2 separate regions of the Homo sapiens genome follow, and region 2 is linked to region 1. The links come from fine-mapping of genetic effects on gene expression. A gene starts in region 1. The other region holds a variant in brackets. All regions are shown on one strand. Distances are from middle to middle.

The links. PIP is the estimated chance that this variant, and not a neighbour inherited with it, causes the effect.
Region 2: its variant is fine-mapped to the expression of METTL9 in blood mononuclear cells (TOPMed, PIP above 0.99).

Annotation. Positions count from the first base shown.
Region 1 is chr16:21,593,831-21,609,442 of GRCh38, forward strand. METTL9 (methyltransferase 9, His-X-His N1(pi)-histidine) reads left to right here and starts at 5,747. Exons shown (of 5, transcript NM_016025.5): 1 at 5,747-6,068. The coding sequence starts at 5,904. LOC101927814 (a long non-coding RNA gene) reads right to left here and starts at 5,555. Exons shown (of 3, transcript NR_110930.1): 1 at 4,826-5,555; 2 at 3,804-3,929. RefSeq lists a silencer at 5,734-6,353 and an enhancer at 6,462-7,026.
Region 2 is chr16:21,611,670-21,627,281 of GRCh38, forward strand. METTL9 (methyltransferase 9, His-X-His N1(pi)-histidine) reads left to right here. Exons shown (of 5, transcript NM_016025.5): 2 at 976-1,166; 3 at 6,196-6,405; 4 at 13,262-13,446. Among named protein-coding and RNA genes, the nearest start is that of METTL9, 20 kb to the left of the region's middle. The variant T/G (reference allele first, on the strand shown) is at 9,507.

The DNA of each region.
Region 1 (15,612 bases):
CATAGGTGAGCCAGCTGGGAAGAATTTTATATATCAGAGGGGAAAAGACTTTCCTACTAAAAAGACAGGCATCTTTGACAAGTAGGTAACTTGAGTTTACTCCCTGAGTTTTATTTTATTTTTTGAGACATGGTCTTGTGCTGTCACCCAGGCTGGAGTGCAGTGCTGTGGTCATGGCTCACTGTAGCCTCGACCTCCCAGGCTCAGTTGATGCTCCTGCCTCAGCCTTCTGAGTAGCTGGGTGTATAGGCACACACCACCTCACCTGACTAATTTTTGTAGTTTTTTTTTTTTTTTTTTTTTTTTTTGGGTAGACACAGGATTTTGTCATGTTGCCCAGGCTGGTGTGGAACTCCTGGGCTCAAGCCATCTGCCTGCCTCAGGCTCCCAAAGTGCTGGGATTGTAGACATGAGCCACTGTGCCCAGCTGATTTTGCTTTTAGGTTTGAATTTTTTTTTTATAGTTCTGTGTTTATTTGTTTTACTTTGTTTTTGGAGACAGACTTTTGCTCTGTCAGCCAAGCTGGAGTGCAGTGGTGCGATCTCAGATCATTGCAACCTCTGCCTCCTGGGTGCAAGTGATTCTCATGCCTCAGCCTACCAAGTACCTGCACAACCACACCCAGCTAATTTTTGTATTTTTAGTAGAGATGGGGTTTCAACATGTTGTCCAGGCTGGTCTTGGATTCCTGGCCTCAAATGATCTTCCCACCTCAGCCTAGTTTTGTGTTTTATATTCTTTTCCCCACTCAGTTTGAAATGTCATGAGGATAGACACATGTGTGAAGATAGACACATTATTAAGAGATGCTATCGTCATGGGTTCTAAGAGAATGTTTTACAGAGAGTAGCTTTGCAGAGACCAAAGTCTCTGACAGATCATCAGACATTAGATTCTTACAGGATGGCCACCTAGATCCCTCACGTGGGCATTTTACATTAGGACTGAGCATCTTTATTATGATAACTTTGGTTGATGTTTTGCAGTTTAAAAAACTCTCAGATCATCTAATTCTCACACACGTCTTGTGAAGCAGACAGCTCAGAACCATGGCTCTTAGTTTACAGATGAGGAAAGAGAGGCTCAGATGAGGTTGATTTACCCAAGTTAAAGTGAAAACAAATTAACATTTTTTGAGTGTTTACTAAATGTTGAGGCACTTATTAAGCCCTTTATATTTATAGTATATAACATGATATTCACTGCATCCTTATGAAATAGGTAACCATTATTATTATTTCCATTTTACAGATGAGGAAACAGACATGTAGAGGTCAAATAATTTGCCTCAAATTGCATAATCAAGAAGCATAGAGCCCAGCTTAAAACCCAGATAGTCTGGCTCAAAGTGCAGATGATAAACTACCATGCTAATGAGTAGCACTGGGAGTTCTCCAATGAAGCACACGATGTTACTTGTATTTGCTACTAACGTCTTCTTTTTTTTGAGATGGAGTCTCACTCTGTCACCCAGGCTGGAGTGCAGTGGTGTGATCTCAGCTCACTGCAACTTCCACCTCTCAGGTTCAAGCAATTCTCCTGCATCAGCCTCATGAGCAGCTGGGATTGCAGGTGCAGGCCATCACCCCTGGCTAATTTTTTTTGTATTTTTAGTAGAGACCGGGTTTCACCATGTTGGCCAGGCTGGTCTCAAACTCCTGACCTTGTGATCCACCCACCTCAATCTCCCAAAGTGCTGGGATTACAGGTGTGAGCCACCGCACCTGGCCAACTACTAACATCTTCTAACCCCTGGTTCAATTCTGCTACTTGAGGCTTTTTTTTTTTTTTTTTTTTTTGAGATGGAGTTTCACTGTGTTGCCCAGCCTGGAGTACAGTGGCATGATCTCAGCTCACTGCGGCCTCTGCCTCCTGGGTTCAAGCGATTCTCCTGTGTCAGCCTCCTGAGTAGCTGGGATTACAAGCATGAGCCATGGTGCCTGGCCTAGGCTACTAATTTTTTTTTTTTCAAAGCTGTCTGCAGTTTTGCCTTGACTTAGAATTCATCAACTGGAGCCCACAGTGATATCATTGCACAGGATTGAAGTTGTATCAACTAAATTCAGATAAAGATCTCCTACGTTAATTAATTAAACAAATTGTTGAGTACATTTGCTAATTTTGTTAGAGGTGCTCATTGCTTAATAACTACAGGACACATTCTATTGAATATACTGGGAAAAAGCTGTATCTTTCTCTGAAGGTATACAAAACAATATTAAGAAGCATAAAAAATATCTGTCCATAAAAACATGATTATGGCCAGGTGCAGTGGCTCACGCCTGTAATCCTAGCACTTTGGGAGGCTGCAGCAGGCGGATCACGAGGTCAGGAGTTTGAGACCAGCCTGGCCAACATGGTGAAACCCCATCTCTACTAAAAATACAAAAAATAGCCAGGCGTGGTGGCAGGTGCCTATAATCCCAGCTACTCAGGAGGCTGAGGCAGGAGAATTGCTTGAACCCGAGAGGCAGAGGTTGCAGCAAGCCGAGATCGTGCCACTGCACTCCAGCCTGGGCAACAGAGCAAGACTCCATCTCGGGAAAAAAAAAGTGATTATATGAGTTATTTTTATTTTTATTTTTTGATACAGGGTCACCCAAGCTGGAGTGCAGTGGCACAATCTCAGTTCACTGCAGCCTCAGCCTCCCAGGCTCAGGTGATCCTCCCACCTCAGCCTCCTGAGTAGATGGGTCTACAGGTGCATGTCACCACGCCTGTCTTATTTTTGTATTTTTTGTAGACACGGGGTTTCTCCATGTTGCCCAGGCTGGCCTTGAACTCCTGGGCTCAAGCCATCCACCTGCCTTGGCTTCCCAAAGTGCTGGGATTACAAGCATGAGCCACCCTGCCTGGTCTATATGAGTTCTTTTTAAATCATTATCTCTTCAAGGAGATAACAATCATCAATAGGTTTTGTACAGATCCAAACTCTCTGCTTGTGGATTCTCTTAACATGATACTTTGTAATTGAAAAGAGAATATGAAAATGCCAAGCTTTGTAACTTCAAAGAACAACAATAACAAAAAGCCTTTGCCTAGAGATCTAGATAGGAAAGTGATCCCGCCAAAATTTTGGGCCTGTGTACAGGGCTGTGACCCAAGTGGGACACCTGGGGTCAATGAGCAGAGTTCGGTGCAGAGGGTCATTTGTGTATCTTTTGAATATTACTAACTGCATCTCAAGATCATGTTAGAACGAGTATTGGCTATTTGGCTTTTTGTGTCATCTTGCCCCTTCCCGTCTCCATTATGGAGAATTGAGGTTTTAATATACGGTAGTGACATTCTAGTAGATGAAGGAAGGGGGCTGTCCCCAGTGGGCAATCTGAACTTCTGCTTCGTATATTTACTCTTGCTGTTTTCGTTTCTCCTCATTTGTAATTCAGGAGGCTCTCTGAGAAGAGACAGCAAAGCTTCTTAGATGGATCGAAAGACCACGAGCTGGGATACCAAGTTCTATGAAAAGGTCAGCTATTGAATTTACTCTGCTACCTTCAGGCAAATCATTTGATCATCGGATGCTCTGGTTTCTTCCTGTGCCTGCTAAATGTAAATAGCATGGGTTTGAGTGTTTGGTGGTTATTATAGAGTATTTTAAATGTATGAGTGATTTATTTTTCTAGGCCAGCTGCTCAGATATAAAACAAAATCTGCTCCTTTGAGCTGTTAGGCTTCGTGGCAGTCAACTGACCCCAAAATCCTTCTGACTACAGCAGCCATCTACTTGCTTGTTCATCTGATAACATTTTGCAGTCTCTCAGCTACAGCTATGTGGTCTCACTCTATAGCTGGGGCATACCTTTTTGTCTCCTTTGTCTTCAGAAAGGAAATATGCCATTTTATGCACTCCTGCTGCTTTCACCCCCACTTTAAAAAGATGAAGGCTTCCTTTTGTGACAGAGTTGCTTTGTCTGTTACACTGATCCTAAGAGACAGGAAGGAGAGGTGTCATAGTAAATAAACAGTTATTGGACTTGCTACCATAGTTCCTTTTTGATGACTTGGGCCAGGACCACTAGAGGTTTGAACTAGATTTAGTAAGGCTTGGGCTTTTCGGGGTTTTGGCAGGAAGCAGTCAGGGAGTATATTGGAAAGAGAGAACACAAAATACCGAACCCCACCCACCCTGTGCCTTTTTGTTTGTTGTTACAGCCTGTTACATTAGGCAACAAGATATCCTTGTTAGCCAAAGGTGCCAAGCTGAGATTCTTAAAAGCTAATGAAAGAGCTGTTGGGCCAGGTGCGGTGGCTCACGCCTGTAATCCCAGCACTTTGGGAGGCCGAGGCAGGCGGATCACGAGGTCAAGAGATGGAGACCATCCTGGCCAACATGGTGAAATCCCGTCTCTACGAAAAACACAAAAATTAGCTGGGCATGGTGGCGCGCACCCGTAGTCCCAGCTGCTCGGGAGGCTGAGGCAGAAGAATTGCTTGAACCCGGGAGGCGGAGTTTGAAGTGAGCCGAGATCGAGCCACTGCACTCCAGCCTGGAGACAGAGCGAGACTCCACTCCGTTTCAAAAAAAAAAAAAAAAAAAAGCTGTTGGGTAAGGAATGATTTTGTTCCCCATCTGTGGCTCACCACCCCACTGTTTCATAAATGAAAATCTCTGATGTGCAACGCTGAATTAACCAAAAGGCTTACTTCTTTTGTTTTGAACTTAGACACATTTACATTATTTCTGGTGCAGTTAAATTAAAAGCACTTTCCAAACAAACCTAGGAAAGTATTAAAGTTAGGGACTCCCACGAAATGTTACTCCTTAATTGTGGCTTGGATAATAGCAGGAAGAACTGCAGACAGGAACACAGTGTAACTAACCCTTCAGTTCTGAAATGTTGCTAGGTCTCCTCGTGTTATAAATGATCAAATAAATATCCGGGTTAAACACTGCTCCCAGAGCTGAGTTCACTCTTAAGAGTGTTGGGTCCAACTTCCCTGTGCTAATTCAAGGAAACAAGGCAGCCAAGGAGTCTAACTTGAGGTCTTCATTCTTGGGCAGGGCCATCAATACATCTAAAACATTACTTGTGGGTACCCCAGCTGCGGTAGCTTCCCCAAAAGGCAGAATTTTCACTCATTCTTTATAGAAACACGTAGCCAGCAACTTCTCAGGCTTGGGGAACGGGGCAGGCGGGTCGTGGTGGTGGGGAGAGTAGAGGAGGGAGTCTGGCAGGTCGGTTCTAAATGTAAACTGGAAACTACGCATCCGAGCGGGCAACCATCACTGGCACCATTCGTCTCCGGGAAGAACCTGTGTGTGTCAGGATGCACGAAAGGAATGACTCCCCTCTTTGCGCCCCCGGGGTTAACTGCACGACCCTGTCAAAGTCCCGCCGTGGAGTGGGATGAGGGTCGAGAGGTAACCCTGTCAAAGTCCCGCCGTGGAGTGGGATGAGGCGAGGAAAGACTGGAGGTCCTTCCAGCACCACCTTGGAGGGGCAGGGAGGCTGCAGTTACCGCCTTCGGAAGTGATCTCCTCAGCCCTCAAAAAAATTAAAACCACCTCCGCCATTTACTAGAGGCCAAGGCAGGGCCGGGACACGAGAACGCGCTCCGGGCGGATGCGCGCTCCCTTTGTCCCGCCTCCCAGCGGCCCGCTCATTGGACGGAGGGAGGGCGCCGGGGGAGAAAGCGACGCGGCCGCTCGTAAGTGCTCCGGATGGAAACTGGTGCAGGGGGCAGCGGCGTTCCGCGGCCGGAAGGGAAGGGGGAGGTGCCGAGGCTGCGCGCCGGCTGCTCCTCCCCACCCCCAGCCTTTGCCCTGAAGGGGGCTGGATGGGCAAGGCGGCCGCGATGGCTCGAGCTCGGGCGGTGGCGGCGGTGGCCGGAGGCGGCGGTGCCTCCTCCTCCTCGCCCCGGCGCCGGCGGTGATCCGAGCGAGCGGCCGCGGCCCCCGATGAGACTGCTGGCGGGCTGGCTGTGCCTGAGCCTGGCGTCCGTGTGGCTGGCGCGGAGGATGTGGACGCTGCGGAGCCCGCTCACCCGCTCCCTGTACGTGAACATGACTAGCGGCCCGGGTGGGCCGGCGGCGGCCGCGGGCGGCAGGAAGGAGAACCACCAGGTACGGGCTGGGGCCGGGGCCGGGGCGGGGGCGTGGCGGCCCGGCCTTCCCGCGCTGGGCCCGGCTATTGTGCGGGACGGCTCCGCGAGGGGGCGGCCCGGCCCTCGCCCCTCCGCCTCGGCCCCTTGGAAAGTTTTCCCCGCGCCTTCCCCGCCGGGCGTCGACTCCGCGAGCCCCGGGCACCCGGCCGCGGCCCCGCGAGCGCCTTTTGTTCCGCAGCGCAGGCGGGGCATGGCCTCCCGGGCCCGATCGTGAGCGGCCCGGAGCCCCGCATTGTTCCTGGGTCCCGGGCGGTGACTGCGGACGCCCGGCAGCGGGACTGGGGAACTTTGGGGCCAGAGCGTGGCTGGGGGCGCCCGCCTGGCACCGAGGCCTGAGACTGAAGAGACCCGGCCAGATCCATTACCCCGAGAAACAAAACGAAAAGCCAGCCCCTCTTGTTGTCTCGTTGAATCCCAGAACGTACAAAGGGTCGTGAAGAAATGTAACTGTACATCGCAAGCCATTGAACTCTCCAGGCTGATTGGGGTGACATTTCTCCCTAAGCACTTAAAAAATGGGTTTGACAGGTTGTCGCTCCCATCCTACGGAACCTTCCCCTCCTACCTAGCAGAGATCTCCTTTAAACTTGGATTTAGTCAGCCTGCTAGAAAGATTGTGTGTGATGAGGAGGAAGATTATGCAAGTTTTACAGGAAGGGTTTTTAAAACAGAACGGGACGGGAGGGAGTTTTAGTTATGCATCGTGAGCGTTACGCTGTGACCGGGTAGGTAGGCTTTTCATTAGCTCAGTCTTGCGCCACTTAAACGTGTACAGGTTAACTGTAGAATTAAGTGAGATATTTCGTATATGACCTTAACATAGTTTGCAGTTAATGTTAAATTCATTGAAAAGAGGCTTTTGAACTCTGCCAGAGTGTTGGCTTGTCATAGCTAGCATTTATAATACATTTTGCTTTTCCATAGAGTATTAATTATTCCCTATATCATCTTGTGTCTCATCATTTTCATATATTTCTCATTTTCCTACATTACTTTTTTATTATGCCAGGTGTTCAGAGAATTTACACCCAGGTTGATTTCATGTGTTTTAATGAGGGTAGAGAATTGTCTAAGAAGGAGATAGAGCAATTTAGAAAAGTAGCATTTAGTCTTTAGTAATATGTATATTGGGCTTTTTTCTATTGTTAAAGGAATCCTAAATTTCTGTAAATTTTTTTGAAAGCCTCCAGCCATTGCAGTTTGTTAGGTGCAATATCAGTATCATTGATCACTTGTATGATATGGTTAGGAATGTATGTAAACTTAAATTGCAAAACCACATTTATTCCTATGGATTATTTGCTTACACTAGTTCATTCTTATAGAGACAACTCAAAGGTACTGTACCGTTGACTGTACAGTTACCAGAATGTCACATATGGAACAATGGGGTAGACAATGAATTAGAAATGTCATTTTTAACATTTTTAAGCAGTTGATAGAAATAAGGTCCTGGATAGGAGAAAAAGCGATTTATCTCCATTGATGGGGGATTATGGTTGAGTCTCTTAGCTATTGGTATTTATAACACTTATCATGATTACCCCTACTGCAGCCACTTGGTAGGTTTTTAGTGCTCATAAAAGAATTGCACTTATTTTAAAATTGAAACACTATTTCAACACTGTGATGTGTATGGAGGCGGAATTGCAGCTGTAGACATAGCCTCAGAATATCTCCCAGCAGAGGATACTTTCTGACTGTACCTTTTAAAAGCTGAATCTGTTAAGTTCTAATGAAAACTAATACTGGTTTCAGATACGTTTATTTCAGATACCGTATTTATATTCTGTGTGTGTGTGTGTGTGTGTGTGTGTGTGTGTACCCCTTCACTAACAATTCAGCAGATAATTTCTTTAGGGTGAAGACTTAATATGGTGTTTTCTGAATATTTGGGGGATGGGTCAACTCTTTTCCTTAGAATAATGAATCCAGACATTATTTTGACATGAATACATTCATATTATGAAAATAATCGTGCATGAATAAAGATTAAAAGGAACAGAAGAAAGGTGTGTAGAAACCACCATGAGATAAAGTAGGAAACTGTCCTTTCTGCACTGTGGCTGGAGTTGATAATTTGTTTTCCACTTAATATTCCAGGATCCTGGGTTTGCCTTATAACTTCGTTGCTTGTGAAGTAACTGTAACTGTTTTTCCTCCTTCAGATTAATAGTTTTATACAAGGTCTTCTAAGTGTTCAGTTGGGTGTGTGAGTTCCATAGCCAGCCACATCTGGGCCTTTTGGAGTTGCATAAAAGTAGGGTTGTGGATTTGATTGAACCATACTTAGCAAAAGTGTTCCTTCTGGTTATTTTATTAAGGAATTATGATGGAGGATTCTGTGGTTAAAAGAGAGATCTTGGGCAATGTTTATTCGTTAAAAATGGCTATTTTGTTAGTATAGTTTGGAGAGGCAAGGCTCCTTTGGGCTAAAGCTGCTCTAAAACTGTAGTAGCAGTGCCATTTTAGTAACTTGGTTTGGTGTGCTAGCTTCAAAACTGGGATTATGTTTCACTTTGGGCAAGCAAGAAGCAGGGTTTCACTTAGAGCAGGGAAGTGGCTGGGAGGCCAGACTGGTCTCACAGACTTATTTTACAGCCTATGAAATAAGAATAGTTTTATATTTTTAAATGGTTACCAAGAAAATATCAAAATAACATTTTGTAATACATGAAGTTTCATTTATGGAATTCAAATTTATTTCAGTGTCTACAAATAAAGTGTTTTTTTTTTGAGATGGAGTCTCGCTTCGTCACCCAGGCTGGAGCGCAGTGGCCCAATTTTGGTTCACTGCAACCTCTGCCTCCCAGGTTCAAGCAATTCTGATGTCTCAGCCTCCCGAGTAGCTGGGATTACAGGTGAACACCACCACGCCCAGATAATTTTTGTAGTTTTCAGTAGAGATGGGGTTTCACTATGTTGGTTAGGCTGGTCTCAAACTCCTGACCTCAAGTGATCCTTCTTCCTGGGCCTCCCAAAGTGCTGGGATTACAGGCGTGAGGTACTACACCCAGCCCACAAATAAAGTTTTATTGAAAGAGAACTACCACATTCATTTACCTGTGGTCTATGAGCTCCCTGGCTACAATAGCAGCATATTTGCTACTGTATGGCCTGCAAGCCTAAAACATTTACTACGTGGCTTCTTACAGAATAAAGACTTTTTCCAAGAGAAATTCCCAGCTTCCTTAACAAACAGCTTTTTTTTTTTTTTGGAGACAGGGTCTCACTGTGTCACCCAGGCTGGAGTGTAGTGGCACAATCTCAGCTCACTGCATCCTCGACCTCCTGGGTTCAAGCGGTTCTCATGCCTCAGCCTCTCCATAGCTGGGATTACAGGCACGTGCCAGCACACCTGGTTAATTTTTGTAGTTTTAGTAGAGACAGGGCTTCACCATGTTGGCCAGGCTGGTCTTGAACTCCTGGCCTCAAGTGATCTTCCCACATCGGCTTCCCAAAGTGCTGGAATTACAGGAGTGAGCCACTGCAACCAGCCTCCAACAGCATATTCTTAATCACAGGTTGCAGGGTGGGTAGATTGACTCACTGGGAAGAAATAGAGGCAGGCAGTGAGAAACTAGTAGATATTGTCACTTTGCAATGTTGGCAGACTCAGAATTTAAAAAGACAACAACAAAAAACTTAGGATCTATTCTTTTTGATGCATTGCACCTAGTGCTTAAAGTTAATGCAACTATTATGGAGCTACTGAAACTTTGAAAGGACCCTTAGGCCCCAGGTTCTTGGTAATAATAGCGGTTCAGTAGCTTCTCAATTGATGGAGTGAAAAAATTGTTATAGAACTCGCTGAACCAAACCACAACGATTTCTCCGGGTGACATACTGCAAGGTTTTTTAAAAGCACAGATAACATTCAATATCTGGAATTATTAAGTTGTAACTTAAAATTGCAAGTATGTGTATATTTTTGTGACTTATTTTTTCACTTTCTTATATAAGCTCAGAACTGCGCTATGCCACAAGTGATGAAGAATTCAAGAAAGAATTAAAATCCTTTTTTTTCCCCCAAATGAAAAAATACTTGGACAGCATAGCCAGAGCCAAACACTGTGCTAAAGGACAGAGTGTTTCCTGTCCCTTTACCCCTCACTTACCCTGTGGAGGCAGACTGGAGTCAGGCATGAGTTAACAATGCTTCAAGGATAGTCAGCCAGCTAAGCCGGACAGACACTGATGGATTGGCGTCCTTCTCTGAACTGCCTTCGAGAGTCTGGAGGCCTTTGCAGCTGAATACCAAAGAGACTTCAGAAAGGATTTCTTTGCTTCCTCATAATCTGTGTTGAAACCCCAAGTGTTTGCTTCAGTTTCACAGAACACTAGAATCTCTTTCTTGTGCTGGATATACCAGGAGTCTTTATGTTTCTCTTTGAAGGTGCCCTAGAAGACCCTAATAGCTTCCAGTAAAAAGCTCTGTTGTGTAGACCCTCTGAAGCTTTGTTAAAATTTTAGGATTATCCTGTCCTATGGGGAGTGAGTATTTAGTATTTGCAATGAGGATTGCCAGTAATTGGTTATTAAATCAAAGCTGAAGCCATTTAATCTGTTTTAATTGATTCCCCTCATGGATATGAGGGTGCCTGTCACTGTACACATTGAAATCTCACATAAAGAGGTTATTGGGTTGAGTTTATATTGTTTGTGGGAAAATGGTGAATGGTCTGAATATTTACGCCTATGCTGTGCTTAAATGCAAGGTGTGCATGGTGAAATGTCTGGACTGAGTTGACTGCATTGTAAAATCTTAGAATGTGAATTTTGAATCCTTAGCTGTCAAGCTCTGTTGATGGAGTTGGTCTGGCCAACTTAGAAAAGATTCTGTGTTCATAGATCCTGAGCAGTGGAGCTTTTCTGATTGTTTTTGGTAGCCCTGAATGCCTTGGGTCTTTGATTACCCATTTCTTTTGAGAATGGCTGGATGCCTAGACCTACAGTTTGGTTTTTAGGCATTCCCTTGAACTGTACTTCTCCTCTGACCAGCCCTTGCCTTGGAGAGAAAGGGGAAGGAAATATGAAGAGCTACTGGCCTTCTATTGTGTGCCAGGCACTTCAAATATATTATCCCCAGTAGTCCACATAGAACTCTTGGAGGTTGGTGGTATCATCCGCACTTTACATACAGAAAAGTGAGGGTGAGAGAGAGAAGAGACTTGCTCACCAGCACAGAGTTAATGGATGATAGAGTTGGGCTTTGCACCCAGCTTTGGTTTCAAGGCAACACATTTTCTGCTGCTTTATGATGCCCCTCCTGGTAAACCTTGTGTTGTCTGAGGGGTGGTAAAAATAGGCTTGCCTTCTTTTTTTTTTTTTTTTTTTTTTTTTTTTTTTTTTTTTTTGAGAAACAAGTTCTTACTCTGTCACCCAAGTTGGAATGCAGTGGCCTGATCATATCTCACTGCAGCCTCAAACTCCTGGCCTCAGTACATCCTCCTGCCTCGGCCTCCTGAGTAGCTTCTAAATCTTTTGTAGAGGCAGGGTCTTGCCATGTTGTTCAGGCTGGTCTCAAACTCCTGGCCTCAAGCAGTCCTCCTGCCTCAGTCTCCCAAAGTGCTGGGATTACAGGCGTGAGCCACTGCTCCTGGCCTAGGCTTGCCTTCTGAATAGGAAACTGCCCTCATTCTAGTGAGGCCTCTGTGTAGACACTGAAGTTAGGTAGCTGTGTGCACAATACTTGTTGAAGATTTTGTAGTTTGTGAATTAGATGAGAATAAGACAGCTGCTTGAAGTTCTGGCCTTTATCTGGTTTGTGCATGCTTTTTTTAAGGCTTAAAGTTGAAAAAAGATTCTTACATGTATTGTCATTTTTTCCTGACATCAGCCATTCTCTAATTTTCCATCACCAAGTGGGTGTTTAATTGTTCAATCCTGTTCTGACATTAACTACCTGGAGTTAGGGTCACGCTTTACAGAGTTAAGAGCTCAGTCCCACAAGACTGCCCTCACTTCAGAGGCCAGCTGGAAGTCCTGGGTTCCCAGGCTGCCAGTGCTTTTGTCCACCTTGAACAAATTTGGGAGTTCCCACAACTCTACCTTCACCCTACCCCACCCCACCCCCTAATTTCCTATAATAGAATGACTCATAGAACTTAGGAAAACACAGGTGCGGTGGCTCACGCCTGTAATCCCGGCACTATGGGAGGCTGAGGTGGGTGGATCACGAGGTCAGGAGATCAAGACCATCCCGGCTAACAGGGTGAAACCTGGTCTCTACTAAAAATACAAAAAAATTAGCTGGGCGTGGTGGCACGTGCCTGTAATCCCAGCTACTGGGGAGGCTGAGGCAGGAGAATCGCTTGAACCGTGGAGGCGGAGGTTGCAGTGAGCTGAGATTGCGCCACTGCACTCCAGCCTGAGCGACAGAGCGAGACTCCGTCTCAAAATAATAATAATAATAATAATAAACCACTTAGGTTTACTGGTTTATTACAAAGGATACAATTGGGGAACGGCCAAGTGGAAGAGGTGCATAGGGTGAGGTGTGGGAGGTGGTGTAGAGTTTCTCTTTCCTCTGATGAGCCACCCAACCATCATATCAATGTATTCAGCAAACTAAAAGCTCCCAGGACCCCATAGTTTAGGGGTGTCATTACATAGGCATGATTAGACTCAGTCTTCAACTCCTTTCTCATCCTTGGAGATTGGAAGGTGGGGCTGAAAGTTTGAACCTTATACCCACATCCTGGTCCCCATCCTGAAGCTGTCTGGGTCTCCCACCCCTATCAGGAGTCATCCTGTTAGCATACAAAAGATACTCTTATTACCCTGAGATTCCCGAAGGGTTTTAGGAACTCTCTATCAGGAACCTGGGACAAAGATCAAATATGTATTTTTTATTATACCACATCATCTAAAATCAGTCAGTTTTTAAAATTACTTTCTGACTCTGCTAGTGTGCTTAAATCCTTTGTATTTTGGGAATGTTGTATTTTGGATATGTTGTATATCACATGTTTGATTAGTTGATAAACTCCAAAAATAATTTCAGAAAAACTTTTAACCATATTTGGTCTGATTAGCAAATCTAATTTTATAGGAAAATTGCATTCCTACTTTGAACGAGTGATTCATCAACCAAGGTTATATATAAATATTAGGAGGAGTTCATGGGCTTAATGAGAAATTTTTTTTTTTTTTTTGACAGTCTTGCTTTGTCGCCCAGGCTGGAGTGCAGTGGCACACTCTGGGCTCACTACAACCTCTGCCTCTCTGGTTCAAGTGATTCTTTTGCCTTAGCCTCCCAAGTAGCTGGAATTATAGGTTCCTGCCACCACGCCTGGCTAATTTTTGTATTTTTAGTAGAGACGGGGTTTCACCATGTTGGCCAGGCTGGTCTTGAACTCTTGACTTCAAGTGATCTGCCCACCTGGGCCTCCAAATTGCTGGGATTACAGGTGTGAGCCATCGTAGCCAGCCAGGAAATTTTTAAGACAGTATGACCTAATATTTAATAACTTCGGTTGGCGAATACTGTCAGACATGCATTCAAAACGCGTGGCAGCCACCTGATTTGGCTGTTTACTGCCTGGCCAATTATTAGTATCTTTGCAGTTGTGTTGCCAGTAGGGAGAATATTGCTATTTACTGTAATTTTTAGATATCACATCCTGTTCTGTACTTGGCATCAGCAGATGACTGAATGGAATCATTCTCATTTGATTAGAATTTGTCATTTAAAAGATTCCCTTGTTTATTTAGATGAAACAACATTTGAGTGAGCTTTAAAGGCAGATGCTAATAAGATGCTTTTTCAGACATGGTAGGCTCCAGCCAAGGAGTCCAGCCTCACAGTAGAGTGGGCGTGTAGTCCTGTCAGTGTGTGAATTTAACGGGCATAGTACTTTGTTCTTGCCTGTGCACCTTTGTCTCTGTAGTCTTTAAGGAGCACACATTTAAAGAACTCACCTGCGGCTGGGCGCAGCGGCTCACGCCTGTAATCCTAGCACTTTGCGAGGCCGAGGCAGGCAGATCACCTGAGGTCAGGAGATCAAGACCAGCCTGGCCAACATGGTGAAACCCCATCTCTACTAAAAATACAAAAATTAGCCAGGCGGGGTGGTAGGTGCCTGTAATCCCAGCTGCTTGGGAGGCTCAGGCGAGAGAATCACTTGAACCCGGCAGGCAGAGGTTGCAGAGAGCCTAGATCACACCACTGCACTCCATCCTGGGCGACAGAGCAAGACTCCGTCTCAAAAAAAACAAAGAACTCACCTGCTTGAAAGTACACAGGAGCATACAGACAAGCCACCCAGTGCTGCGAGCTTAGCGTAGCTTTTTATCTAAGCTGGTTGTTTGGAGAGAGGTGAAACCAGGAGTCCTGCCCATTGGGTTAAAGGGGTTCCTGCAGATTTTTTCTCTCCTTGGTCCTTGGTATTTCACCTTAAGGGCAAGGTGACTGCTCCTTTAAGGCTCTGAAGCTCCTCGCCAAGATCATAGTCACATTACTTGTTTCCCTTGGTTTCTGATTTTATTTTCACTCTGGAATGTAAGTTCTCTGAGGCCAGCGAGTCCATCTTTTAATTCAGTCAGCTGGAGTCCCTAGACCATAGTTAGGCTGGGATAGTGGGAAACACTACTGGAGAGTCAGTACAGTGACATTTTGTGGGTAAGGCCATGTATGGGTTCTCAAGCAGTGGCAGTTTTGCCTCCCAGGGGACATTTGGCAATGCCTGGGACATTTTGGGCTGTCATTTGGGGTAGTGCCACTGTAACCTGATGGATAGGCACTAGGAATGCTGCTGAACATCCTACAATGTGCAGGTCAGCCCCTATAACAAAGGATCATTTAGCTCCAAATGTCAGTAGTGTGAAGGCTGAGAAACCCTGGCTTACAGGACTTTAGTTACTATCTAGACCAGATTATCTTTTCTCTACACACATGTAGTTCAGTTTAATTGGCAGGATAGTCCTGCTTTCTTTTCTTTAGCAGACACACTGGGTAGAGTTAAGTGAAGAGAAGCTTCTTTGAAAGAAACGCTTATAAAACAACACGTACCTGGAGCAGGAGCTTGAATCAGCTGGAGCTGCTTAGGGACCCTATGCTTCCCATTTATTCAGAAATTGCAAGGTGGTAAATGAAATGTAAAGCACATGGCTTGGTGCCTGGTGCATGATAGGTGCTCAGTTGGTGTCTTCCTTCATTGCTTGCTTCCTTGCTTGTGGTAATGCAATTTTGTGGTGAGTGGGTAGCTGTAACCACTGGTTGCAAAATTAGGTTTAAGCAAGGCCTTGCAGAGTTTGAGAAATTGACAGAAACCCCATGGCAGCGATCTCTGTGGTTATCCTTATGTTTCCTCTAGGATTTTGTTAGAAACTCCAAATTCTGTTTAGGCTGCCTGTTGATGAACATTTATTGTTTGTCTGTATCTGTGCCAGGCACTGAAGCCATTCATTTTCTCTGCCTTTATGAAGCTCTCAGTCTACCTGGGAAGATAGGCACTGAACATGCGATTGTCTACAATTATTCAATTCAGAGATTGTAAATA
Region 2 (15,612 bases), 18 kb after region 1:
CAGGATATATAGACCCCAGTGACATCTCTAGTCTACAAATGAATGGAGGCTGAGAGATTTAAGTGATTTGTCTGAGCTCACATAGGAAGGGCAGAGCCGGGACTTGATTGTGGGGCTGACGCTAAAGCTGATGTACAGTCTGCTTCCCCACCTCTCTGGTATGCTGACTCATTTATTATGAAAGATTAAATTTCATCTACAGGTGAAGCTTTTTGAATTTTGTTCTAGAATGTGGATTCTGGGTAGAGCCAATTCCTGGAAATCTGGTTCTTAGCATGTTACTATTTGGTCTTCTCGTTGATTGCAGTATGACCTTAAGTAACTTCTTAATCTTTCTTGAGCACATGTTGCCTCTGTAAGAATGTCATATGACCTATTTGTAAAGCATACCTCAAGATTTCTAAAGATCTCTTTTACATAGTCCACAAGAGGAAAGGCAACTTAATCTGGTCACTGGAGTGTTAAATTCTGTTGCTTACTTTGCTATTTGGGTTTGTTTGGTGATTTTGAGTTAAGGCATTGGATTATGTGACTGTTTTCTTGTCTAAAAACAAGGATGCTGCTAGCTGTTTGCCTTCTGATGTTGAATCTCAGTGAAAGAGAGGCCAGCAGAGCTTTCTAAATCTCGGGTACAGTGACTGAAGCACTGGGCTGGGAGTCCGAGTGCCTGAGCTGTGGTCTGGTTCTGCTGCCTACTAAGCTGAATGACCCAAAAGCCTCTCCACCCTTCCCTCACCCACTCTACCTACCTTGAGGGCTGTAAGAGAATTAAATGAGAAGTCATGTCTGAAGAAGTACTTTATATTTTATAGGTTATATGAGTATACGAAATGATTATTCTCAGAGTATCATGAGATGGTAATATTTGGAAATCTTAGATGTGATTTAGTCTTCTGGTTTTTTGTTTTTGGATTTCTTAGGTGACACTTCGGTTGTGTGTTTTAATTTTTGTTCTTTTTTTTTTTTTTTTTTTAGTGGTATGTGTGCAACAGAGAGAAATTATGCGAATCACTCCAGGCTGTCTTTGTTCAGAGTTACCTTGATCAAGGAACACAGATCTTCTTAAACAACAGCATTGAGAAATCGGGCTGGCTATTTATCCAATTATATCATTCTTTTGTGTCATCTGTTTTTAGCCTGTTTATGTCTAGAACATCTATCAATGGGTAAGTGAATCTTGGACATTTATTTTTTTCTTTATCCTTAGGTTTACAAAAGGAAAAACACAAAAAGAAAAGTTATCTTGTTCAGCATGTTGACTACCTGAGCTACAATACTTCTACTAGTCAGAACCTTGGCAGTTGGTCCAGCGTTCTATCTTTCTGTGGTTCTGCCCTTTAAATTCACCATAACGTGACAGCCTCATTAGTATGTTTATTCATAGCGGGAGTTACTTACGGTAGTGCTTCTTGGCTTTGATGTACATAGGAATCACCTGGGGGTCTTGTTAAAATGCAGATTATGAGTTAGTACATCAGGGGCTAGGTCTGAGAGTCTGCTTTTTTTTTTTTTTTTTTTTTTTTTTTTTTTTTTTTAAAGACAGTCCTGCTCTGTTTCCCAGACTGGAGTGCAGTGGCAATCTGGGCTCACTGCAGCCTCCGCCTCCCGGGTTTAAGTAATTCTCATGCCTCAGCCTCCCAAGTAGCTGGGATTACAGGTGTGCACCACCACACCTGTCTAATTTTTGTATTTTTAGTAGAGACGAGGTTTCTATGTTGGCCAGGCTGGTCTCTAACTGACCTCAAGTGATCCATCCACCTTTGCCTCCCAAAGTGCTGGGATTATGGGTGGGAGCCACTGCACCTGGAGAGTCTGCATTTTTAACAAGCTCTTAGACGATGCCAGTGATGCTGAATGCTGCTGGTTCTGGACCACAAAGTAGCAAGACTCCTGGAACCAAGCCCTGAAGCTGAGGGCTTTACGCCCTTAGGCTGAAAAGTAAGATCTTTGCCTTAAACATACTTCGCAGTGGCAAATTTTTTTTGGGAGATATAATTAGTCAGCCCAACAGTGGATGATGGCTTATTTTGAGTGAAGAGTCCTGCATCTGTTCTTAAATAATGTCTAGGTTCACCAGAATTTTATGAACTTATTGTGGAATTCTCTGTCCCCAGAGTGGTTCCCTCATATAAATCCATAGAAAAAGCTTTAGGAGTTTTTTTTGTTTTTTTTTTTTTTCAATCCTTTCTTGGCCATGTTTTCAAGCATTCCTAAGGACCTAGAATCTAAAATGCCAAAGAGAAAAGCAACAGGCTCAATGGTTAAGAAGCCTCATTGGACCACTCAAACCACTGGTTGGGCCCACTTTTCTTTTCCCTTGAGGTTTGGAGCAGTTTCTACTGACTGACTGGATCCCCAGTGTATCATCTGGTCCTAAGTCTTCAGGCACCGCAAGCCATTTCTCAAGATTTCTCAGTTGATTTTCTTCATTGTTTATGTGAAATTGCCATACGTTTGCTTTGGCAAACAGTTGTTATTTTTATATGGGTGGTTGAGTTGATACAACTTGGTCTGACATTTTGTTCCTTAAATTGGTTATATTGAATTTCTGTTCTATACCATTTATTCTTCCTTTGGAATTCAGATGAGTCACTGTAGCAGAGATTCTTATCCTTTCTGGGGTCCTGTAGCTCTTTGAAAGTGATAAAGGTAGGAATCCTCTCTTCAAAAAGTGCTTACATTCAACATTTTGTGTATGATTTTGGGGGCTTCAAACTTTTATTTCCCCTTTCCTCTACCCATAAGACCCTGGTTAAAATTCCGTGCTCTAGAATTTCACAGTTTGATCAAAGAGGCAATGCAGTTAATAAACCCCTTTTGGCTTCCCTTACTTAAAACTCTTCTGCTTTTTCCTTCTGATACCCACCCTGCTTTCAGTCCTTCTTGCCTTGTGTCCCATTCTCAGCTAAAAACTAAATTTTAGGGCCCATCAGTACTTTCCGGTCATGGCAGTGGGAGATAATTACTACAGGTGGCCATCTCTCACAGAAATCATTACTGTAGTACTGTCTTGTATTACCTTAGGATACTTATCAAACTTCCTTTATTTTGGAAAGGAGAAGGCCAAGTAAGGAAAGACTTAGTAGATGTTCCAGAGTTTATTTTATAAGGAAGAGGTGCATCTCTCCGTAGACTCTTAAGTCTAGAGAGAACTTAGATTGTGATCAGAGAACCTAGGATGGTTATTAAACACTAAAGTTAAACCCAAATTAGAGGGTCATATCTCTTCATGGTTTGTGTTTATGGGAAACTTTGTATTGGGCTCAGTATTTTAGGTGATACTGTTTTTCATTGTGCGAGACTGCCCCCCACACTGCAGGAAGTCTAACTTTTCTGGCCTTGCCCACTAAATGGCAGTAGTACCCCCAGGTCCTTGTGATTACTGGAAACTCTCCTGTCTACTCCCATTGCCCCCTAGAGGGCAAAATCAATCCTGGTTGATAAACACTGGGCTTGATGGATTTTGATTTATTTTTTGACAGTGTTAATCTTTTTGTAGAGCCCCTGTTGCTAATGTTCTTTCGAAATAGGACAATGCTTCCCCTCTTTCTCTAGTGCCTTCTTTCTTTCTTTTTTGGAGACAGGGTCTCGCTCTGTTGCCTAGGCTGGAGTGCAGTGTCACAATCATGGCTCACTGCAGCCTTGACCTCCTCAGGCTCAGGCAGTCCTCCTGCCTCAGTCTCCCAGGTAGCTGGGACTAGAGGCTCATGCCACCGTGCCTGGCTAATTTTTGTATTTTTTATAGAGACGGGGTTTCACCATGTTGCCCAGCTGGTCTCAAACACCTGGTTTCAAGAGATCCTCCCACCTCGGCCTCCCAAAATGCTGGGATTACAGACGTGAGCCACCATGCCCAGCCTCTAGTGCCTATAAATGTAGACCAGTCAGATGAACTTGTGAGCTCTGAGCTCAGGTGACCTCTTGTTCTAGAATTTTATAATTATCATGTCAAGATTCCTCACATCCCAAGGAGATGGCTTGGGAAGCACGCTCTGGGAAAATTTAAGCAAAATAACTATTTTGTGACTTACTTTTGGTCCTGTGGCAAGTCAGCATCAGTATTTGAAATTCGCCTCCCCTCAGCCATGCTGCCAGTAGCCTCTTTCTGCTGTGACTGGTTTCTGTGTTAAATTTTGTACAGCTACTTCAGCAAGTTCAGATTTGCTTATTTTCTTACTGTAATATATGAACAATTGAGGATTAAAACAACTTGTCTTTTATGAGACGTGATTTTCTTTGGTAAGCAGTTGTAGTCGGTAGCATCACGTTTAGTGGTCTCTGAGGTCTTTCTCCAAATTTTTAGCATTTCTATGGGGGCAGAAGATTTACTGTAAACTTGGTTAAACTCTCCTATGGCCTTAATGGGAAAAGGAAGGGGGACTTTGTTACATGAACTCCATTATTTGTATTTTTTCCTAAAACTGGTCTTACCTTGGGCACCGTGTTGCATGCATCTTTCCAGTCACTGTATAGCAGCAAACATTCTGTACCTTATGATTGTTTCCAGAGAGCAGCAGTACAGAACAGGTTTCCCTGCCACTTCCTGGACCAGTGGTCCCCAAACTGTTTTCTAGGGTCTGAGGAGGAAGTGCCTCAGGAACTGCTTCAGGCTGCAGAGAAAGGCCTAGAAGTGGGCTGGCCACAGCTCCTGGGCTCCCAACCTCATTCGAACAGCAGCAGCTCTCTTAGGATCTTATGTTATCTGTGAGTTCCACTTCATTTAAAGAAAGGGTTCTGCTGCTTAAAGGAGGGTTGAGAATCCCTGTCCTAGATAAACTAGAATTTCAGAGCTAGAAAACAAGTCCTAAATAGGGATTGCGCTTTATTTCCCAGAGTGATGCTTCCATGAGACTTGGCTGGACCTATAGTTGCTTTTCTGAGGGTTCTCTTCAATCTCCAGTTAAACTCCCCTCAGTCTCTTTTTTCAAAGGCATCACTATGGTTTTGAGTGTTTTCTAGGACCTTTAGAAATAATAGGACCCAGACAGTTGTAACCATATAAACTGACATAAGTACGAATCTACTTTAATGCATATTAACCGACATCACAAGGACCACTCTTTTCCCTCTTTTCTCTAGTGTCTCTTAAAAATCTGTTATACTAAAGCTCTTTTTTCCTGATCCATGGTTTAGTTCCATATTTGAAATCACTTTTTTTTCCTATTTGGTTTCTCTGCTACTGTGGTCTGGCTGTGTTAGCTTGTCATCTTTTTCAACTGATAAACATGTTTTCTGTTACTCCTTCCACTTTTCCTTCCTATTTTGACTTAAGTTCTTCACATTCATCTCTTACTTATTTCTTCTTCCTTCCCCTGTCATCCTTTCCACTTTCCACCTTTTATTTCCCTCCTCCCATGCTTTTTTGGGGCATTATTTGCAACTCCAAAGACAAATGGTATCTGGAGGCATTTTCTTATTTTATTAACTTTGTCTTCTAATCATAGAAATGACATAAAAGATAATATCTTTGCTGGGCACGGTGGCTCATGCCTGTAATCCCAGCACTTTGGAGGCAGAGGCGGGTGGATCACGAGGGCAGGAGATCGAGACCATCCTGGCTAACATGGTGAAACCCCTTCTCTACTAAAAATCCAAAAAATTAGTCAGGTGTGGTGGCGGGCGCCTGTAGTCCCAGCTACTCAGGAGGCTGAGGCAGGAGAATGGCATGAACCTGGGAGGCGGAGCTTGCAGTGAGCAGAGATCGTGCCACTGCACTCCAGTCTGGGCGACGGCAGAGCGAGACTCTGTCTCAAAAAAAAAAAGAAAAAAAAAATTAGGCCAGGCGCAGTGGCCCATGCCTGTAATCCCAGCACTTTGGGAGGCCGAGGCGGGTAGATCACCTGAGGTCAGGAGTTCGAGACCAACCTGGCCGACATGGTGAAACCCTGTCTCCACTAAAAATACAAAAAATAAGCCGGGTGTGGTGGTGCATGCCTGTAATCCCAGCTACTCAGGAGGCTGGGACAGGAGAATCGCTTGAACCCAGGAGGCGAAGGTTGCAGTGAGCCGAGATCATGCCACTGCACTCCAGCCTGAGTGACAGAGTGAGACCTTGTCTAAAAAAAAAAAAAATCTTAACCATGTAATAAGTGATTATGGTTGTTGGTGCTGAGTCACTATATTCACTTTGTGTGTGTATGTGAGGGGTGCTTAATTTGCATAGACACTTCCATTTTTGTCCTTTTTTTCTTTCAGGTTGCTAGGAAGAGGCTCAATGTTTGTGTTTTCACCAGATCAGTTTCAGAGACTGCTTAAAATTAATCCAGACTGGAAAACCCACAGACTTCTTGATTTAGGTGCTGGAGATGGAGAAGTCACAAAAATCATGAGCCCTCATTTTGAAGAAATCTATGCCACTGAGCTTTCTGAAACTATGATATGGCAGCTTCAGAAAAAGAAATACAGGTATAATTTTCTTGGTTTTAGATGCATTTCTTCTTGAAAGTATATTATTTAAAGGATATGAATAAAAAATGATCTTCCATGATTAGAAATTTAAAAAATCATCTCATACATAATTAACTGGAAATGTAGAGAAATAATCTTCTGGTAGCAGTATTTTTCTGGAGCGGAGGGGTTGGCACTATAGGTAAGAAAAGCACTAGCGAGAGACAACTTGGAAAAGGCAGATCAGAAGAAGGGACTTCTTCCCTAATCAGAATGTGGCATTCTCAAAAAAAATTTTTTTAAGTAGTGGTAAAATACACATAGCATAGAATTTACTGTTGTAACTATTTTTAAGTGTACAGTTCAGTGGTATTAAGTACATTTACATTGTTGCATAATCATCACCACTATTCATCTCCAGAAATTTTTGTCTTCCGAAACGGAAACTCTGTACCCAATAAACAATAACTCCCCATTTTTCCCTCCTCGTAACCCCTGACAACCACCATTCTACTTTGTCTATGAATTTGACTATTCTGGGTATTTCGTATAAGAGGAATTATATACATTAGCTCCTTGTGACTGGCTTATCGCATGTAGCATAATGTCTTCAAGGTTTACTCATGTTGTACCATGGGCCAAAATTTTCTTTTCTTTTCTTTTCTTTTTTTTTTTGAGATGGAGTCTTGCTCTGTCACCCAGGCTGGAGTGCAGTGGCACGATCTCGGCTCACTACAACCTCTACCTCTCAGGTTCAAGCAATTCTCCTGCCTCAGCCTCCCAAGTAGCTGGGATTACAGGCATATGCCACCATGCCTGGCTAATTTTTTTGTAGTTTTAGTAGGGATAGGGTTTCACTATTTGGCCAGGCTGGTCTCGAACTCCTGACCTCAAGTAATCCAAAGTGCTGGGATTACAGGTGTGAGCCACTGCGCCTGGCCCAAAATTTTCTTTAAGGATGAATGATAATTCGCTGTATGCATGTACCACATTTTGTTTACCCATTTATCTGTCAGTAGATATTTGGGTTGTTTCTACCATTTGGCTGTTGTGAATAATGCTGCTATGAACATGGGTGTACAGATACCGACTTGAGCCCCTACTTTTACTTCTTTTGGGTATAGACCCAGAAGTGGAGTTGCTGGATCACATGGCTAAGTCTGGGTTTAATTTTTTGAGGAATTGCAATACTTTTCCATTGCTGCTGCACCATTTTACATTCCCACCAGCAATGTAGTACAAGGGTTTCAGTTTCTCCACTCCTTGACAATACTTGCTATTTTCTGTTTTGTTTTGCTTTTAGTTTATAGTCATCAGTGTTAATCTTGGTTTTAAGGTCATCTGGAGTTTGAAAGACTAGGAAGAAGGGCCTTTTTTTTTTTTCTGGAGATGAAGTTTCACTTGCCCAAGCTGGAGTGCGGTGGCGTGATCTCAGCTCACTGAAACCTCCACCTCCTGGATTCAGGCAATTCTACTGCCTCAGCCTCCTGAGTAGCTGGGACTACAGGCACATGCCACTATGCCCGGCTAATTTTTTTTTTTTTTTTTTTTTTGTATTTTTAGTAGAGACAGGGTTTCACTATGTTGGCCAGGCTGGTCTCAAACTGCTGACCTCGTGATCTGCCTGCCTTGGCCTCCCAAAGTGTTGGGATTACAGGCGTGAGCCACTGCACCCGGCTGGAAGAAGGGTATTCTTATTTCAGTATGATTTATTGATTGGGAGATTTCTATATATTGGCTCAGTGCAGAATCAGGGAGGTAGAGCTGGAGTCAGCCTTTCTCTGTGATATTTTTGGAAGTCTGGTTAGCCTTAGAAAGAAAGGAGAAGAAATTATGTAATCACTCACTTTCCTATCCACATGTTTCTACTTTTACAGATTAATCCTAGAGATAGAGCATCAGTGTAGCTTTTGGAGCAGGACTGGTTTGAGCATTTGCAAAACATGGAGATTTTTAGCCTGGAGAAGGGAAGATTTCTGTGAACAGATACGCTGTGGGATTTTTATATGGAAGGAAAGGAATAGGTATAGTCTCTGGTGTAATCAGGCACAGCTACGCCTTAGAAGTTGAGTTACAGCTTAGGGAGATCGACCTTCCTAGCTTGAACTGTTTAAGTCCTTATCACTGTCAGTGTTTAAATTGCTGTTAGGGTTGTTATAGGAAGAGACATAAGGAAGGTGTGAGTTTGAACTGAGTGATTTGAAAGCCCCTTAGCTTTAGCAAGCTGTCTCAGATAAGGTTCTGGTGGGTCTGCATGGTGATAATTGACATGTTTTCCTTCAGTTAGAGATTAATTCGGCATTTCAAAACTTAGAATGCTTTGACCTTTGTTATAACAGTGGCTTAAGTCAGGCTGAATTCCTAATCTGATTCCACCTCCCCCCCTTAAAAAAATCCATGCTTTGAAGTGGGTCGAAGAGGAAGGTGTTAAACCCATCTTCAGATGATTGACCGCCCCAGCCTTCTTTTGCTTTGATGCTAAGTGCCTAAATGGAATTTTCAGGGAAACTTCAGATGTTTGAAATTAGTAATATATCTGGAGTGTACATGGTATGTAAAGATATCTACCACATAAAAAATACTTGGTTTAATTTTTTCCCTAATATACAGCACATAAGCCAAAAATCTGCAGTTTGACCTGCATGGGAAATTCATACTGATTGGCATTCCTTTCATAATATTAGTATGAAGTGAAAACATTTTCACAAAAGTGGTAAATTTTGTGACTATTGGTGCAGTTTGAGGTTTTAATGAGGAAGTAGTATCTTTATTTCCTAAGATTAGAGGTCACCCAATCCAAGATGGCAAGGCAGACTTTCAGCTGAATTTTACATTTTTTTCTTCCTTTTGAGATTAGAGCTATTTTCTATTTCTCTTCAATATCTGGGCCATGAAAAACAGGCTTTTTATTAATTTATATATATATATTTTTAGAGACGGGTCTCTCTCTGTCACCTGGGCTAGAGCATGTGGCGTGATTATAGCTCACTGTAGCCTTGAACTTCCGGGCTCAAGTGATCCTCTCACCTCAGCCTCCTCAGTAGCTGGGACTACAGGTGCCTGCTACCATATCTGGCTAATTTGAGAGAGAGAGTGTGTGTGTGTGTGTGTGTGTGTGT[T/G]TTTGTGTGTTGTGTGTGTAGAGACAGGAGTTTCATTATGTTGACCAGGCCAGTCTTGAACTCCTGGCCTCAAACAGTCCTCCTGCCTTGGCTTCCCAGAGTGCTGAGATTACAGGCATGAGCAAAACACACCTTTTTAAATAAAGGTTCTGTAATTTTTTTTTTTTTTGAGACAAAGTCTCGCTCCATCACCAGGCTGGAGTGCAGTGGCACAATCTCAGCTCACTGCAACCTCTACCTCCCAGGTTCAAGTGATTAGCCTGCCTCAGCCTCCCAAGTAGCTGGGATTACAGGCGCATGCCGCCACACCCAGCTAAATTTTTTGTATTTTAGCAGAGATAAGGTTTCACTGTGTTGCCCAGGCTGGTCTCGAACTCCTGAACTCAGGCAATCCGCCCGCCTTGGCCTCCCAAAGTGCTGGGATTATAGGTGTGAGTCACTGCGCCCAGCCAAAGTTTCTGCATTTCAAAAATAGGTCAATAAACAGAAAATGGCCAGGTTTTTCCTTTGTATTCGCAAGTTGTCATTGTTTATGCCAGAAAACCCAATTGTAAAACTAAAGGATGTGGTTTTGATTTTTACAGCAAGACAGTTTTCTTTATATTGTTAGTGTTTCATTTTTTATTTAGGAATTATCAAAATACAGATTGCTTATTTCCTAAGTTTAGAGCTCTCCCAACCCGAGATGGCAAGGCATCTTTTTTTTTGGGAGACGGAATCTCTCCCTGTTGCCCAGGCTGGAGTGCAGTGGTGCCATCTCGGCTTACTGTGCAGCCTCCGCCTCAGCCTCCCGAGTAGCTGGGACTACAGGCGCATGCTGCCACGCCCAGCTAAGTTTTTGTATTTTAGTAGAGATGGGGTTTCACTGTGTTGCCCAGCTGGTCTTGAACTCCTGAGCTCAGGCAATCTGCCCGCTTTGGCCTCCCAAAGTGCTAGGATTATAGGTGTGAGCCACCATGCCTGGCCTTTTTTTTTTTTTTTTTTTTTGAGACAGGATCTTGCTTTGTCGTCCAGGCTGGAGTGCAGTGACACAATCATAGCTCACTGTAACCTCAAACTCTTGTGTTCAAGCCATCCTCCTGCCTCAGCTGCCCAAGTAGCTTAGCTAGGACTACAGGTGTGTGCCACCATCCTTGGCTATTTTTAATTTTTTATAGAGATGGGGTCTTGTTGTGTTGCCCCAGCTGGTCTCAAACTCCTAGGCTCAAGCGATCCTCCCAAAGTGCTGGAATTACAGATGTTAGCTACTGCACCTGACTGCTTTATCATTCTCTAAGGAGAAATATATTTTACATCCTTCTGGAAGTATTAACTCATTTTCTTGAAAATAATAATCACTTGAATAGATACCCTCATTCTAGGTTTAGAAATACTGTTTTAGAAAAAGGAAAATTCTGACAACTTGTTAGGATTCCTGGGCTAATACGCAGTTTTAGTGGGGCTAAGCAATTTGTCTTCATCAGTGGAACTGAGTGAGTTTACAAATAAAAATCACAAAACAGAAGTAAGAATGCACTTGAGCTTCTATAGGTATAGATTTAACTGTCTTAGTGTTAGTCACCTTTTTGTGTTATGAGCATATATTTCTCTTCCAAAATTACCAACACAGAGGCTACCTATCTGAAACTCATTCTGAGGTAGGTTTAGTGAGATTATTCTAGATTAGAACATGCTGATGATGTTTGGCTTCTGCTTCATTGCAGATAGACATCAGATTTTTTTTGTTGTTTTGTTTTTAAAAATCAAATATATAATTTGTGTTTTACAATTTGTGTCTTTAAATTGGCTGCTTAGCTAAGGCGTTAATATATACAAATAGTCCTTTCTTTATTCATTTCCATTTTTTAGAATGGGAATTGATGACATTTTTGTTCTGAAAGTAGTCTTCTTAGTAATGTTTGGAAACTCTTGGAATGAGCTAAATTGAATTTCCAAAATTGCTATTACAGTTGACTTAGTACAACAAAGTGATTTTAAAGCCTGAATGCTCTACTTATTTCAAACAGTATTTAGTGCAATGAAACACCTGCACCAGTAAGGAATCTGACTAGTCCCTGGAAGTTTGTTAGGCTGCTATTTGGAAGAGGCTTTAGTTTGACAAAAATATAGATTGAAAAGAAAATGCAGCTAAGTGCTTTGTGTTTTTAAAATTCTGCTATTCAGAAATGCTCTAAATATCATTATGCTAATGAGGTTTTCAAAACAACCCTCATTATACTTTTAGAATTTTCTGAGCTATCTTACTGTATCTGCTCAACATTACTAAAGACTTGTTTACCAAAGATCCTTTTTTTATGTTTCCTTTTTTACCTGTCTCTATCATAACATATCTCACCTACCACATTCTGATTGGTATAACCAAGCAGGAGTAAGTAATTTGTAAAATTGCCTAATTGTGTGGCTAACAAAGACTCTTGATATAAAAACTCCCCCTTTCTAGAGATAACAACATTGTAGAGGACTGAAAATGTTCTCTGTGTTCTGTGTACGTGTGTATGAAAGTGAGAGATTGAGGATCGAGAGTGGTTTTTTTTTAAACCATGCTCTTAATGTTAATAGGATGTCCTGGGCTTTATCTTTTCTGTATAGTTTTTGTTTTGTTTTGTTTTGTTTTGAGATGGAGTCTGGCTCTGTCCTCAGGCTGGAGTGCAGTGATGTGATCTCGGCTCACTGCAGCCTCCGCCTCCCTGATTCAAGCGATTCTCCTACCTCAGCCTCCCGGGTAGCTGGGATTACAGGCACGCGCCACCACACCCAGCTAATTTTTGTATTTTTAGTAGAGACAGTGTTTCACCATGTTGGCCTGGATGGTCTCAATCTCCTGACCTCATGATCCGCCTGCCTTGGCCTCCCAAAGTGCTAGGATTACAGGCGTGAGCCACCGTGCCCGGTCCTTTTCTGTATAGTTATTCAGATATGAAGATTCTCAAGTATGAAATATGTCTTTCCTGGGAACGGAAATGTGCTCAAAGGTCATAAGTTATCAATGGAAATTATTTTATACCACTCCCAGCCATTTTTAAGAATAGAAGGGATCCTAGGAATAGAAAACATTAATTATATGATGCATTTTTTGATTAAGTTCCAATGAATGGTAAAAAGCTGGACTCTTGTTCATTAACTGATATTCAAAAGAATTTGATGTTTTAGTTTCATAACTTTGTCAGGTTACATCTTCATACTTATTAAACATGATTAGTTCTTGTAAAGGAAACTTCGTATGTGTTGAGATTTGGAAATAGGTGAAATGCTAAATTTAAAGAAATATGGGCCAGTCGTGGTAGCTCACACCTGTAATCCCAGCACTTTGGGAGGCCGAGGCAGTCGGATCGCTTGAGGTGAGGAGTTCAAGATCAGCTTAGCCAATGTGGTAAAACCCCGTCTCTACTAAAAACACAAAAATTAGCCGGGCATGGTGGCAACTGCCTGTAATCTCAGTTACTGGGGAGGCGGAGGCAGGAGAATCACTTGAACCTGGGAGGCAGAGGTTGCAGTGAGCCGAGATTGCTCTACTGTACTCCAGCCTGGGCAACAGAGTGAGGCTGTGTCTCAAAAAAGAAAAAATTAAAAAAAAAAAAAAATGGTTGCTATTTTTCTCTTCCTTGGCCATGTCATTATTGCAAACATAAATTATAACAGAAGATTTTGAACTTAATTTAGAAGACAAAGTTAAAGCCTTTATTGTCATCTCAGTTATTTTTAAAGATGTCTTTAGAGGGACTTTATGTTAATACAGTTATTTCTGATTTTTCTAGAGTCCTTGGTATAAATGAATGGCAGAATACGGGGTTCCAGTATGATGTCATCAGCTGCCTGAACTTGCTGGACCGCTGTGATCAGCCCCTGACTTTGTTAAAAGATATCAGAAGTGTCTTGGAGCCAACTAGAGGCAGGGTCATCCTTGCCCTTGTCCTCCCCTTTCATCCCTATGTGGAAAACGGTAAGTGTGGTCAGTCAGGCTAGCTCTTACTGAGGATAGCTGTTTATTGGTATTTGTGATTTTGTGCTGTGTACAATTAAATATTGTCTAGTATGTCTTATAATAGCCTGCAGTTTAAAGTAATCCAGTTAATCCATGTAAAACACCATCTTGGTTAATGTTCACCTTAAGGTGGACTTTATAGAGGTCTAGCATTCCCCTTGCAGTGGTAATAATTAATATTTAGCTGGGTCTGACTGCTTGAGATTGAAAGCTAAAAATGCAACTGTATCTCTGGTTTTAAATGGAGCTTGAACCATTTATTTATTAGCTTTACAACTGAATCGAGCAATAAACAGTGCCTTTAAATCTGGTCGTATATACTTGCTGAATGTCATGGCTGTTTTGTTTTCCGTTTTGCATCTCTTGTGCCAGACTCTAAAAATGATAAATGCTTTTATCTGTTTTTTTCTCTTTTGAAGACCATGTGTGTTGTTGCAGCATGTATCATTTCTTTCTGTAACATTTGATTTTTTGATTGCATGGTCTTGCTCTTCAGCAATATTGAATGAAGAATATGTTAGAAGAAACGGGTTGATTTCATATCACTTCATAGTTACTGTGACTTCTGGCCATTCTGACTTAATGCCACATTAAGTTATAGTTTTAGTTTGTGTGGTTTGCATTTTAGGTCATCTTGAAAGTTATGATTTTAAGTCTCCTGCATTTTCATAAGTTAATGTACATTAATATAAAATTATTTATTTTATGAATAATACAAGTTACTATTTAAAAATCTTCAGTGTTTCATTTATTTTTTTGAGACAGAGCCTTGCTCTGTCGCCCAGGCTGGAGTGCAGTGGTGCGATCTTGGCTCACTGCAACCTCTACCTCGTGGGTTCAGGCATTCTCCGGCCTCAGCCTTCTGAGTCCCAAGTAACTGGGACTTCAGGCACATGCCACTATGCCTGGCTAATTTTTGTATTTTCAGTAGAGATGGGGTTTCGCCATGTTGACCAGGCTGGTCTCTAACTCCTGATCTCAGGTGATCCTCCTGTCTCTGCCTCCCAAAATGCTGAGATTACAGGTGCGAGCCACCATCCCTGGCTGAAAAATCTTCAGATTTTCTATTTCACTGCCTCGATTGACCTTGACTTCAGAAACTCTTAAGAGCTCACAGACATTTTGAAGAAATCTATTAGGATTTTGCAAATGTCATTATTATCAAATATGAAAATCTATGTCTTAAGGAATAATGCCCGTTTCATATAACCATTGGATTCTGTGTGGATTTGTGGTGTCACAAATTAATTTAATTTCTTGTATGTGTTTTTTCTCCCCAGATCTTAGTGCCTTCAGATTTAATGCTTGTCTTAATATTTACCAAATGGTTTCAGATTTGTGTTGATAATGGGGAAAATGGGGAATTCTTTCGATATAGAAGGGTGTGGAAAAGAGCAGAGAGAACAGATCTCCCCTTTCCCATCTTAGATCTCCATTTTTATGTTCCTGTTGTCGAGTGGTTTGTCATGGTAAAGAAAAAATGCTTTTAAATGTGAGTGTATATATATCATCTATATGTTGCAAAATGTCCTCCTTCGTGATTCAGCAACCTGATCTTACTTCAGTGCTACTCCTTCCTGTGTAATTAAGCCTCAGCTCCAGCTCTCTGTATTGCACTCACTAGTCATCAGGTTGGAAGGTCCTGGGTTCCTGTGTCCTGTTGGGCAACCGCATGATAGAACTTTAATGCTACTTCCTGGCATAGCAGGAGATGAAAGAGCAGGGGGAAGAAACATCAATCTAACCACGAATTTTATTTCCTTGTGTTTCTGATGCTAAAAATGGAGAGGAAGTCAAACTAGACAAGAGGGAAGTCTCCATGAAGTGTGGAAAACAAGCTCCTTGATTGTGGATGTGCAGAGCTGCCTGTTGAGTCTGAGGAGTCTGGCATGTGACACACTGCAGACCTGAGACAAGAAGCCTTGTTGCTATGGGTGACTTTTAGTGACCTATAAATTTTGCAGGCGCGCCACGGCACTCTATTATTGCTTTCTTTCTCTGAGTCACTAATTAGATCCTGATGATTTCCATGTGAAACCATGAGGACTGGGAGATGCAAAATGGTTTTGCTGTGTAGATTCATGAATGCTGGACTGTTGGAGGATATCTGAGTGTGCTTTGCAT